3 linked regions of the Homo sapiens genome follow. The protein of the gene in region 3 interacts with the protein of the main gene of each other region in a biochemical or structural test. Each region holds a gene or a part of one and is shown on either strand. Other genes may lie near its edges. The genes, in order: SLC16A7, DOCK4 and PDZRN4.

What was found.
Region 1: the proteins of PDZRN4 (region 3) and SLC16A7 interact in a test that uses a peptide from one of them, tested with the Homo sapiens proteins (one large-scale study listed by IntAct).
Region 2: the proteins of PDZRN4 (region 3) and DOCK4 interact in a test that uses a peptide from one of them, tested with the Homo sapiens proteins (one large-scale study listed by IntAct).

Annotation. Positions count from the first base shown.
Region 1 is NC_000012.12:59,784,443-59,788,099, forward strand, and holds part of SLC16A7 (monocarboxylate transporter 2), read left to right. Parts: 3' UTR 1-3,657. UniProt on the Homo sapiens protein: Proton-coupled monocarboxylate symporter. Catalyzes the rapid transport across the plasma membrane of monocarboxylates such as L-lactate, pyruvate and ketone bodies, acetoacetate, beta-hydroxybutyrate and acetate.
Region 2 is NC_000007.14:111,870,879-111,874,535, reverse strand, and holds part of DOCK4 (dedicator of cytokinesis protein 4), read left to right. Parts: intron 1-1,971; coding exon 1,972-2,069; intron 2,070-2,183; coding exon 2,184-2,267; intron 2,268-2,445; coding exon 2,446-2,546; intron 2,547-3,657. UniProt on the Homo sapiens protein: Functions as a guanine nucleotide exchange factor (GEF) that promotes the exchange of GDP to GTP, converting inactive GDP-bound small GTPases into their active GTP-bound form. Involved in regulation of adherens junction between cells.
Region 3 is NC_000012.12:41,191,319-41,194,975, forward strand, and holds part of PDZRN4 (PDZ domain-containing RING finger protein 4), read left to right. Parts: intron 1-139; coding exon 140-226; intron 227-2,762; coding exon 2,763-2,870; intron 2,871-3,657.

The sequences.
Region 1 (3,657 bases), about 19 Mb from region 3:
AATATTATCCGTAGCTACCAAAAAAAAGATTATAAGATACAAATGATTTGGTTTACCCATACAGTTACATATTAATTTTCATCATTTAATACAACTTACCCTACACCGTAGCTTATTTTTCAAGTTTCTCTGAACATCTTTGTTGTCATTCACCTCTTTGTCTATTTGTTCTGTAGAGAAAACAAGTGTCATTGCTTTTGTCTTCTCCATCTAGACTTTTGCAGTCCTTAGACTATAGTTCTCCTTAGCTCTATTCAAATAGTGCACTTGCAAGGCGCTGCATTCTTCTCAAAGTCAGCCATGATGCACATATTTATAATTACATACACATATAATTGAATATGATTTTAGAGTCTTGAAAAACTGATCTTCTTTGGCACTATCCTGAATGTTTCTGATTTTCTTAAAGTGCCTGACAATATTGAGTAACAAAGCTTACCATCACCACATTGCACCATTATGTATTATTCTGTCTCCATCAATGCAGTGACATCACTGATACATCATACCAACAAGATTTCTAACCACAACCATTCAGAGCACTAATTAGCATCTATATTGAGAATATAAGATTAATATTACAAACTTGACTTTACTCATCTCTCTTTAAGATTTTGATTTCTGCACAACCATATGCAGAACTCATGTTTGAGAAGGCACTTAAAAGCTGAAAGGCCCAATTATCAGTAATTATAATGCTTGCATGATCAAAATTACAAATTATCTTTGTTGATACAATTAAAAATGAGTAATTTTCTGAGCTTATGTCACTTTTTTATAGTTCTGATTTTCTCTTCTTTCCTATCAGTTGTTTGTACACTGGAGATTTTAGCTCTTTACAGGGTGCTACAATCTGGTTTATTTTAGTCTTCTCTCCTCTACTGCTTTTTCTTCACTTTAATTCATTTATGTGCAAATCAGGGAAGAATTGCTGTAGTATTGAGAATGGTCATTTTAAAAGTCTCTACCTTAAGAGCAAAATTAATATTGCAAAATGAATTTTTGATTTTACAGAAGCATATGGGAATTTAGATCAAATTACATCTCCCATCCCAATCTCCTGCTTCTTCATCATCTCCTAAATGTTTTCCTTTCTATGTTTTTATAATATCTAGGTAAAACTTGTTTAGCATTTTTTATTTAATTATGGACATATTTAGTATGGACTTTTGTTTCTTTGGTATAGTTAGTTACACTTGTTTGCATGATCTACATGTTTTTCAGTCTCCATATATACTTGTTAATAAGGTGAGCAATATTCAGGAATATTTCAGTAGGCAATTAATGATCATAAATTTATTCACATTTCAGTAAATATTTTTCACATGATCAAACAGGATTTTTTGTTTCTTTTTAATTTAAATATGGCAAAATAAGCTAGAGAATCTCAGTGTGAAAACACTGATACTGAACATTCTATTAAAATAGAATAAGTTCGTGTAGGGACATGGATGAAATTAGAAATCATCATTCTCAGTAAACTATCGCAAGAACAAAAAACCAAACACCGCATATTCTCACTCATAGGTGGGAACTGAACAATGAGAACACATGGACACAGGAAGGGGAACATCACACTCTGGGGACTGTGGTGGGGTCGGGGGAGGGGGGAGGGATAGCATTGGGAGATATACCTAATGCTAGGTGACGAGTTAGTGGGTGCAGCGCACCAGCATGGCACATGTATACATATGTAACTAACCTGCACATTGTGCACATGTACCCTAAAACTTAAAGTATAATAATAATAAATAAAATAAAATAAAATAATAAAAATAAAAATAAAATAGAATAAGTTGATAAAAGCTCCTCTGTTCAGAAAAACAAAAGAATGGCATTTTATCTCACATAAATTTAGGATGAAATTTTAAAACATTCTTTTGACTAAGACTTTAATTCTTATATGCATCTAAAATAAATGTTTTGAGTTAGACTCAGTTTATATAGCTTCCTCGTTAGAGTACACATTTTTTTTCTCATCCTCCGAATCTCAAGAGTACATATTTCTGACAAGCTTTTCAATGGTACGATGGATTTTATTTTTCTATCATCAACTTTCTATATTTAACTAAAGCATTAGTATTTCTAGATTTAGTGAAATAGCAAATATGAATTAAAATATTTATTTCTAAACATTAGATCTAATTGTATTTTGATTTGTTTTGATATATTTATGTCTCAGAAGATATGTTTAATGAATTCATTTCATCCTCTCAACCCTCAGTTTTGATAGGTATCCACATTTTTACCATATAAAACTAGACTGGATTAAGGATTTTGCCTAAACCTATACCAATACTCTGAATAAATGCAGGGTTGGAGATAGAATTCAGGTCTTTTAACTTCTAACACACTTTTTTCTCCATTGCACTACAGAAGCCGTAAGGTCATAATGATGATCTTTGTAGAGTAAATAAAATATTTTCCTAGAAATATATATAACAACCCTACTTGATAGTTTATAGCCCAAATGAATATATTTTTCCAATCATGGTTTGCAAAATCATGTTTGCAAACTTACTTTGAAGACTATTTCCTGATTGCCACGGCAGATAATTCGTGGCAAATCAGAAATAATATTTAGTGAGATTAATTATTTTGCACAATATATGTTGTTATAGCAATATCAAAATCATTTAAAACATCAATATTGTATTAATAGAAAACATGTCAATATCTCATTAATTCCTTTTTTATTTTATGTTCCTTTTTATTTTAGAAGCAGTGTTCATTTTTTTCTGAAGTAGAACGCCAGAGCACAGAACACACAGTTCAAGTTTAAATTATTAAATTGTATGCAAGAAATTATTGCCATAGCATAGTCTTGAGGAGAACACCTCTACAGTATTTCTTGATCTAAGAACCTGAACATATGTTAATGAAATTATTAGAGTAAGTTCTATCTCAAAAATTTCTTATTTTATGAATGTTTTCTTCACCTAATAAACAATACTAAAATCCATAACAGCTGTCTGGCAACAGTGTAATTAGAGCTTCTTTTATGTTAGAGATTCCATCTACCTCTGCATCTTATCTAGCTAGATACAGTCTTTCTAAACTTTCTCCTTTATTCCCATGTAGAGAACAAACAAAAATCACACCTAAATTAAAGATCTGTGGTGAAGGGGAAGAGGGGTTGCTATTAGGAGTTTTCCCGGTAAAACTGTAAAAACAGTAATCTGCATTCAGTATTTGTTTGCCTAGTTCATCAAGATATTTACCCTAAAAACACATTTTAATAAAAATTTGGGTAAACTCATGTATCGCAGTAAAATCTTTTATGAATTGGGTGGGCCCTAAAAACATCTGTAGTACGTGATGTGTTTGGTTAGATTCAGCCAAACCGACACCCGTATGCTAAGACTGCATTGTCATTCTGACAGGAGGCAGGCCTCAGTAGTTGCAGTGAGTGCATTTACTAATATAAGGATCCTTCTTTGTAGTGACAACAAAAATGAGATTGTAACTTAATCAAATATGAGTCAGATATAGTAATTCCTGATATTGCAGATGAAAGAGCAGGGTCTTTTCAAGTGCTTGCTACAACTGACTAAATTTGAAGCTTTTTATGTAAAAGTTCTTCTCCCAGATATTTTAAACCAGTATGTTAATTATTTCCTAGAATGAATAATTCTCCTTTTTTGATAGATTTTTGAA
Region 2 (3,657 bases), on a different chromosome or scaffold from region 3:
GATTAATTACATCCAGATGGACATAACTACTGGGCTTTTCCACATGCTCCATCATGAGCAGTGTAGAGATTCATCAGCCTTCTTGCAGGGAGGATGGGCAGGCTCATCCTGACTCATTTTCTGGACCCCTGTAATCTGTTTTCCAGCCCTACTTAAATGGGCCCTAGTCCTCATTCTCCACTGCTGCCACTTGGTAGCCAGCATAGCCACCTCCTTCCTCCCCACACTCCTCACATTGAGCAGGGTCCTGATGGCCCCTGCAACTGCCTCACTTTAAAGGAAGGGAAAGAGAACACAAAGGAGGAGTGAGAGCTGGGATGGGGGTGGAGTGGGAAGTGAGGAGTGAATGGCAGGGGAAATGCACGAGGGATTATGAAAGAGAAGATGCCAGGGAGGGGAGGCCTCCTGAAGTGAGATGCAGGAAGTAGGAAGTAGGTAGGAGGGAAGCAGCAAACTGGGGAGAACAATAGAGCTTTGCCTTTGTCGCCCTGAGTCTCACTCTGTGGAAATATCTGATATGCCAAATATAACCAATCAGTTTTAAAAGGTTTCAGTCATACCCCAGGATGTCTGAATTACATCTGAATAGTCAACATTTTCAGGGTTTTTGGTTATGAAAACATCATAAATCTCTTTTTCAAAGTCAGTATTTTTAAAATCACTTTATTTTTCTCATTCTAATTCCTCCTCCTCCTCTTACCCGTGTTTGTTGCAGATAAACATTCCTGTTTGGTACTGAATTCCTTACTATTAATAGTAAATCCTTTGTGAGGTTTTTCTCTTGAATCTGGCTTTGGTGGAGCTTGCTTCTCTTTCTCCTTGAGATTCTTAATGCTTTTTCTCACTGGTGTTCTCTATATTCTCTTTTTCTTTCTCATCTTACCTACTTCCTTGGTTTGGGGGGTTTGGAGTTTTTGTTCCCTCATCATCTTTCTGTTTCTCAGAAAGTCCCTTTTGGGTTTCTGCTAAAACAAGTGATTTGAAGTAAATTTCCTGCTTCCCTGCCTGGAAATTCTGTCCTGGCTCCTCTCTCGGCCAGTCTAGTCTGGCAACTCCACTGAGCCCTGAGGCCAGTTCTACCAGGTCCCGCTGCCCTGCGCGTGCTCGGCACACGCGAGCCTTCAGTTCTCACTGCATTCATTGGCCTCCAGATGCCACCTCTCCCTGCATGCGTTGGAGACTAATAATGCATGGAGACCATCTCCCACAGCCTTTGTAACTTCTGCCCAAGAAAGATAAATTTATTCCCTCCCCAGGTGAAGAGGTTCTCTAAGGACCTGCTGGACCAAAGCCCTCATGTCTGTTTAGGAAAGGGTTAAAGAGCTGGGCCCTGTGCTTATCTGGACTCTGGGATGAAAGATGGCCTGTGGAGTCCAGGAGCTGCTCTTCTCAGGTTGAGAGCTCCCTGGATGATCTAAGAAATCACTGGGCCTGTTACCATTCTTTTAGTCTGCAAGATTTGGGTCACATTGCCAAGAAGACCTTTGTTCCTGGGTGGAGTTGGTTGCTAGGCAGAGTGCTATGTGCTGGGCACCCAAACGGGAATAAAGCAGGTTCCCAGCCCTCAAGAAACTCTCATCTTTCCAGGAGGAGGCAGAAAAATTAATCAACAAATATTTGTCACCTGCCTGATTTGTAAGGATTTGTAAGTGCTACTGTGATGTGGAAGCATGTAGAAGGGACAGTTAGCTCGAGATTTCAGGAAAGGCTTCCAAAATGAAGCAACATCCGATCTGAGGACTAAAGGATGGGTAGGAGTTTGTAAGTCAAGAGCAGTGGAGAGGAAACAGAATACAGTGAAATAAATGCCATCCTAGAGAGGGCTAGTCATAGTTTGTGGGAGCCTGCAACTTGAGTGGCTAGGAGAGGGGAGCCACATGTGTTAAGAATTTTACTTTTACTAGCAGAACGCTTTCATGTGAGGACCTGTTCTCTATTAAGGCAATTAATCTTCCTTTTCTATTTTGAAAGGTGATATGCTTGATCTTTTGAAATGGAGAACCCACCCAGACAAGATCACTGGCTGTCTCTCTAAATTAAAAGAAATTGATGGCTCAGAGATAGTAAAGGTATATAGTATTTCATTACTATTTTCCTTGCAGAGATTCATAGAATAAAGAACATTTGGAGGAAAAAGACAGATAGTATCTTATTTACTCATTTGCTACTTCTTTATCTAACAGTTTCTGCAGGATACACTGGATACCTTATTTGGAATTTTAGATGAAAATTCCCAAAAATATGGGTCTAAAGTGTTTGATTCTTTGGTAAGTTCAAATTCCCTTAATTGTATTTTAACTGTTTTGTCTCTCAATCTTGACTTTCATGAGGCTGGTTCAGAAACATGTGCTTAATAATGTAAGAGTTCATTTTAAAAAGAAGCAAAAAAAAAAGGAAAACCTTGATTTGCATTTAGTTTTATAAAGCTCAATTTTCTTTTTTTAGGTTCACATAATAAATTTGCTGCAAGATAGCAAATTTCATCATTTTAAACCTGTAATGGACACTTACATTGAGAGTCATTTTGCTGGGGCACTTGCATACAGGTAAGGCCCTGTATCTTGTAATTAGTTTAGAAGTGGTTCCTTTCAAGCTTTTCTCAGCAGAAGAGGCGATATAGGAAAATTTAAAAGGGAGTGTAGGAAGAAATGGAGCACTACTGAAGTGTCTCTTGAGATAGTCTCTTCCCTGCTAACACACCCTTTTTAAATGGGTAGAACTTATTTTGATTAAAAAGGGAAAAAAACCTCCTGAATTCTATTCCTGAGCCCTAAAATATAAAGTCTTTCCTTCTTGTCTCTGTTTCACTGGATATTCTTTGGTCTAAAATGTCTGGTTATCTCACTTCGGCTGTTAAGAGTCCCACTTCATCACTGTACTCCCTGATGATTATAAATGTTCATAAGAAAGAAATATGAATGGAAAACAACCTTTTCCTTCACACCTGCTGAAAGTCATCCATTCATTTATGTTAGGATTTACTGAGTGCCAGCTGCTTGCCAGGCACTGTACTTTATGCTGATGATGTGAAGACCTGGTCCCTGGCCTCAGGCAATTTAGTCATTGGGATCTACTCTTTGATAGGAGCTGCTATTTTAACTGCTCCTCCTTTTCTACTGGCTCAGGTGGTGCTGAAAAGTTATGAATAATATTATGCTTTGGCTAGTGCCTGCCTCCTCTCAACATAGTTGATAATTGCCAGAGGCCACAGCTTCTCTCTTTTAGTTCGACAAATAACTGCTTAAATAGCCTTGGAGTGTACCCCATCGTCTGTCTCCCAGTCCAATATGGTCCTTGCTGTTCTCCCATATTTCTACCTTATACCTTAAGCACCTGTGGGCATGCACATGCCTGACTGTTCCCTGAGGTGAGTTTAAAAAGCATGAAATCAGGTTGATATCCTTCCCCCATCTATGTAATATATAAAGGTTAATAGGTTATCAGATAAGCATTTGATCCTGTTTACTTGGATATTCCCAGCCATGACAGGTTAAGATCGACGTCTCCAACATCGAAATGAATGAAGGTATTTTTGTTAGACTTGACACTTCATCAGTGTGATTTTTTGCTGAGAGTGAAATGCAACCGCAGGAATAGTTTTGAAACATCGGCCCACTCAGCCTAACAATTTGGGCCCTAGTGTGAGGAGGTTACTGC
Region 3 (3,657 bases):
CCACATTCAACCATCCTTAATTTTAAAGTTTTCCTCTTTTCACATGTCAGTTAACTTACAGTACATAAAAACTTATTGTAGGATTTATTTTTCTTTTATATTTTTACCTGGTTAAGTCATTTTATACATTTTTTTCTAGGATGGAGAGCATAAGCCATTCACTATTGTGTTAGAAAGAGAAAATGACACTTTGGGATTCAATATTATAGGAGGTCGACCAAATCAGGTAAAACACCTTGTTAATGCATTACTCGTTACTTATAAAATAAGCATTAATAAGCATTACTCATTGCTTATAAAATAATAGAGGACTTAGCTTTTGTTTGTGGATTTTGAGTAAGAAAAACAAGTGGTTTAATCTTTAAAATTATACTTGTGATCAAATATCAGATTTCTTAATGCAAATATTCCAGTACATACCCAGATTTTATTTATTTATTTATTTATTTATTTATTTATTTATTTATTTTGTTTGTTTGTTTGAGACAGAGTCTTGCTCTGTTGCCCAGGCTAGAGTGCAGTGGCACGATCTCAGCTCACTGCAACCTCTTCCTCCTGGGTTCAAGCAATTCTCCTGCCTCAGCCTCCCAAATAGCTGGGATTACAGGCTCCTGCCACCACACCCGGCTAATTTTTTGTATTTTTAGTAGAGACAGGGTTTCACATGTTGGCCAGGCTCGTTTTGAACTCCTCACCCCAAGTGATCCACCTCACGGTCTCCCAAAGTGCTAGGATTACAGGTGTGAGCCACCATGCCTGGCTCTGATTTTATTATTTTTTAATTTTTAAAAATTATTTTCTTTTTGAGTTGGAGTATCACTCTGCAGCCCAGGCTGGAGTGCAGTAGCGTGATCTCAGCTCAATGCAACCACTGCCTCTGGTTCAATTGATTCTCCTGCCTCAACCACCCAAGTAGCTGGGATTATAGGCGTGTGCCACCACGCCCAGCTAATTTTTGTATTTGTAGCAGAGAAAATACAAAATGTTGGCAAAGCTGGTCTCGAACTCCTAATCTCAAGTGATCCACCTCCCTCACCTCCCAAAGTGCTGGGATTACAGGCTTGAGCCACTGCACCTGGCCTTTATTTTTGAGAAAAACAAAAAACAACAGCTAGCAAACTTGGTTCTCTTTGCTACTTTAAAAGAAGAAAAGGAAAGTACATTTCACATTTTATCTAAATTTTATTGTCCTTTTGGCAAATTTCTTGAATAAACCTATTTCACAATACCATGTGTAGGCAATTTCTATTTGATAATATTAGGCAATTGTATTGCCTGCTTAAACCTATTTATTAAGTGCAATTACTCAGTTTGAAGATGCTAATACAGACTAGGAAGAAAATTATATTGAATGAATGAATGAACAGTTGAAACAAGGGATGATTGATTTCAATAGGAAGTACCATGTTAAAGAAAAACAGTTGATTAGAAATATTTTTGGCTCCCCAAACCGAGTTCTTTGTTTGATTGCATGAATAATATTCTTCATGTTGATGTCAATTGTTTTCAAAATGCATATTTTAAACTTATAGAATATACTGTAGTTGCAAAGTTCTTTTATATCTTTGAATTCCTGTGTCAACTTAATTTTCACCGTAACTGGAAAAAGGTGGTTAAGTTTTAAAAAATGATGTTCTTTAATTTTTCTCAATAAACTGCCATGAAATTTTTGCATCCTGCATTGCAGATGTTGTACAAGGAAACTGTCTTAGTGTTGTTGGCCATATGCTCTGTTTAGGTAAGGATGGCAGTGACATATTTCTTCCTTGTTTTTAGTATTTTGAAAACTTAGCAACTAATGACTGCTGTGCTTCTCTTTTTAAAACAGTCCTCATTTATTAAGATGAAAGCCTTTTCATCATAGCATTTTCGTTATCATTTTCCCTAAGGAATATTTTTATAGATTCTATTTTGGTATTTGACATTTAGATGACATCGGGCCTTTTTAAAAAGTCTCTTAAAATTCATGATAAGGACAGCTAAAGAGAAATAATTTTATTTAACCTGTCATGAAGTCAAATGACATTTAAAATTATATAATGTATTATTATAGGATGTTGGATATTTTCCCCTAAATAAGCTTTGACTTCTTGTGACTGGCTAAAATGTCCTATTTTTACCATATTGGCTATGTTTGAGGTTTAACTAATCATGAGTCAGACTGCACCTGGAAATATGTAACGATGAGTTTGCATGGGTTCCCTTTTGCATAGGTTCCCTTGCAGTTTAGATGTGATCTTTTGGGATTTTACACTTGAGTAAGCTACCAGTGTCTCTTGTGAATAGACACAACTAGAGCTATGTTTCTAAATCTGGCACATCAAAAAGCTAAATTACATTTCTAAACTCTACCACATCTCAAACCAGTTATACAGTGGGAACCAGATATATGTTTTTTTCCTTCTTTAACCTTATCACCCTTTTACTTGCTGTCTCTCTTTAGAAGTGAGATGTTTTATAAATAATACTTAAAAGCCAGTTTATTTCACCTTGTACATGCCCTTTCCCATAGCTTTTTTATGTGAACTCAAAAATGTGAAGTAAATAGATAATCTTGTCAGAGACCCTGGACTCATTCATTAAAACTGCCACCTTGATTAATGACTAGTTGGTGTTAAGTAAGTTAAAATTCTGTTCCAAATCCCCAGCTAAGAGAGTTGCAGGTTTACAGAGGATTGGTAATGTTACATTTGGTAAATTGTCCCTAATAATATTTAAATTTTGCTTACATCTTTCTTCTGCTAATGATTTTTTAAAAATAGAATAATCAGGAAGGAACATCGACTGAAGGAATTTACGTTTCAAAAATTTTAGAAAATGGACCTGCTGACAGAGCAGATGGCCTGGAGATTCATGACAAAATCATGGAGGTAAGACAATGATAAAACATGTATATGATCCATGCAAGAAAGATTGGGATATTTTAAGTTTTCAAATTTACCACTTTACCTTGGTGTGGTGCTTATTAGAATATACATTCTTAGTAGCAGTAAAGGCATTATCATTTTTACTTTCTTACAAAAAATGTAAAAGTCACTGGGAGAGGTGGCTCATGCCTATAATCCCAGCACTTTTGGTGGCTGAGGCAGGAGCATCACGTGAGCTTAGGAGTTCGAGACCTGACTGGGCAACATTGTGAGACTTCATCTCTACCAAAAAACAAAACAAAAAAATTAGCTGGGCATGGTGGCACATACCTATGGTCCCAGCTACTCAGGAGGCTGAGGTGGGTGGATCACTCGATGTTAAACCCAGGAGGTCAAGGCTGTGGTGAGCTGTGTGTAGGCCACTGCTCTCTAGCCTAGGCAACAGAGCAAGACGCTGCCTCCAAAAAGAAGTAAAACTCTATTATGATTCTATATAATTCGTTAGATATTGTGATGAAAGAATAAAATGCCTGAAGTTTTCAAATGTGTTAATGAATACCTCTGTTTTAATAACCTGTGTTTCCCATGAACTATGATGTCACTTGCTTGATTATTAAAGGATTAATTATTATAACATTTCAAAAAAGGATGATAAATCTCTGTTGAGGAACATTTCTGATGAGGAACTATGATTATATTTTAAATTTGTAATTAATATTTTATATGTAGAGTTTGGAATAAATTATACAATACTTTTAATATTTCTTGGTGTAATATGGCTACCTTGTTC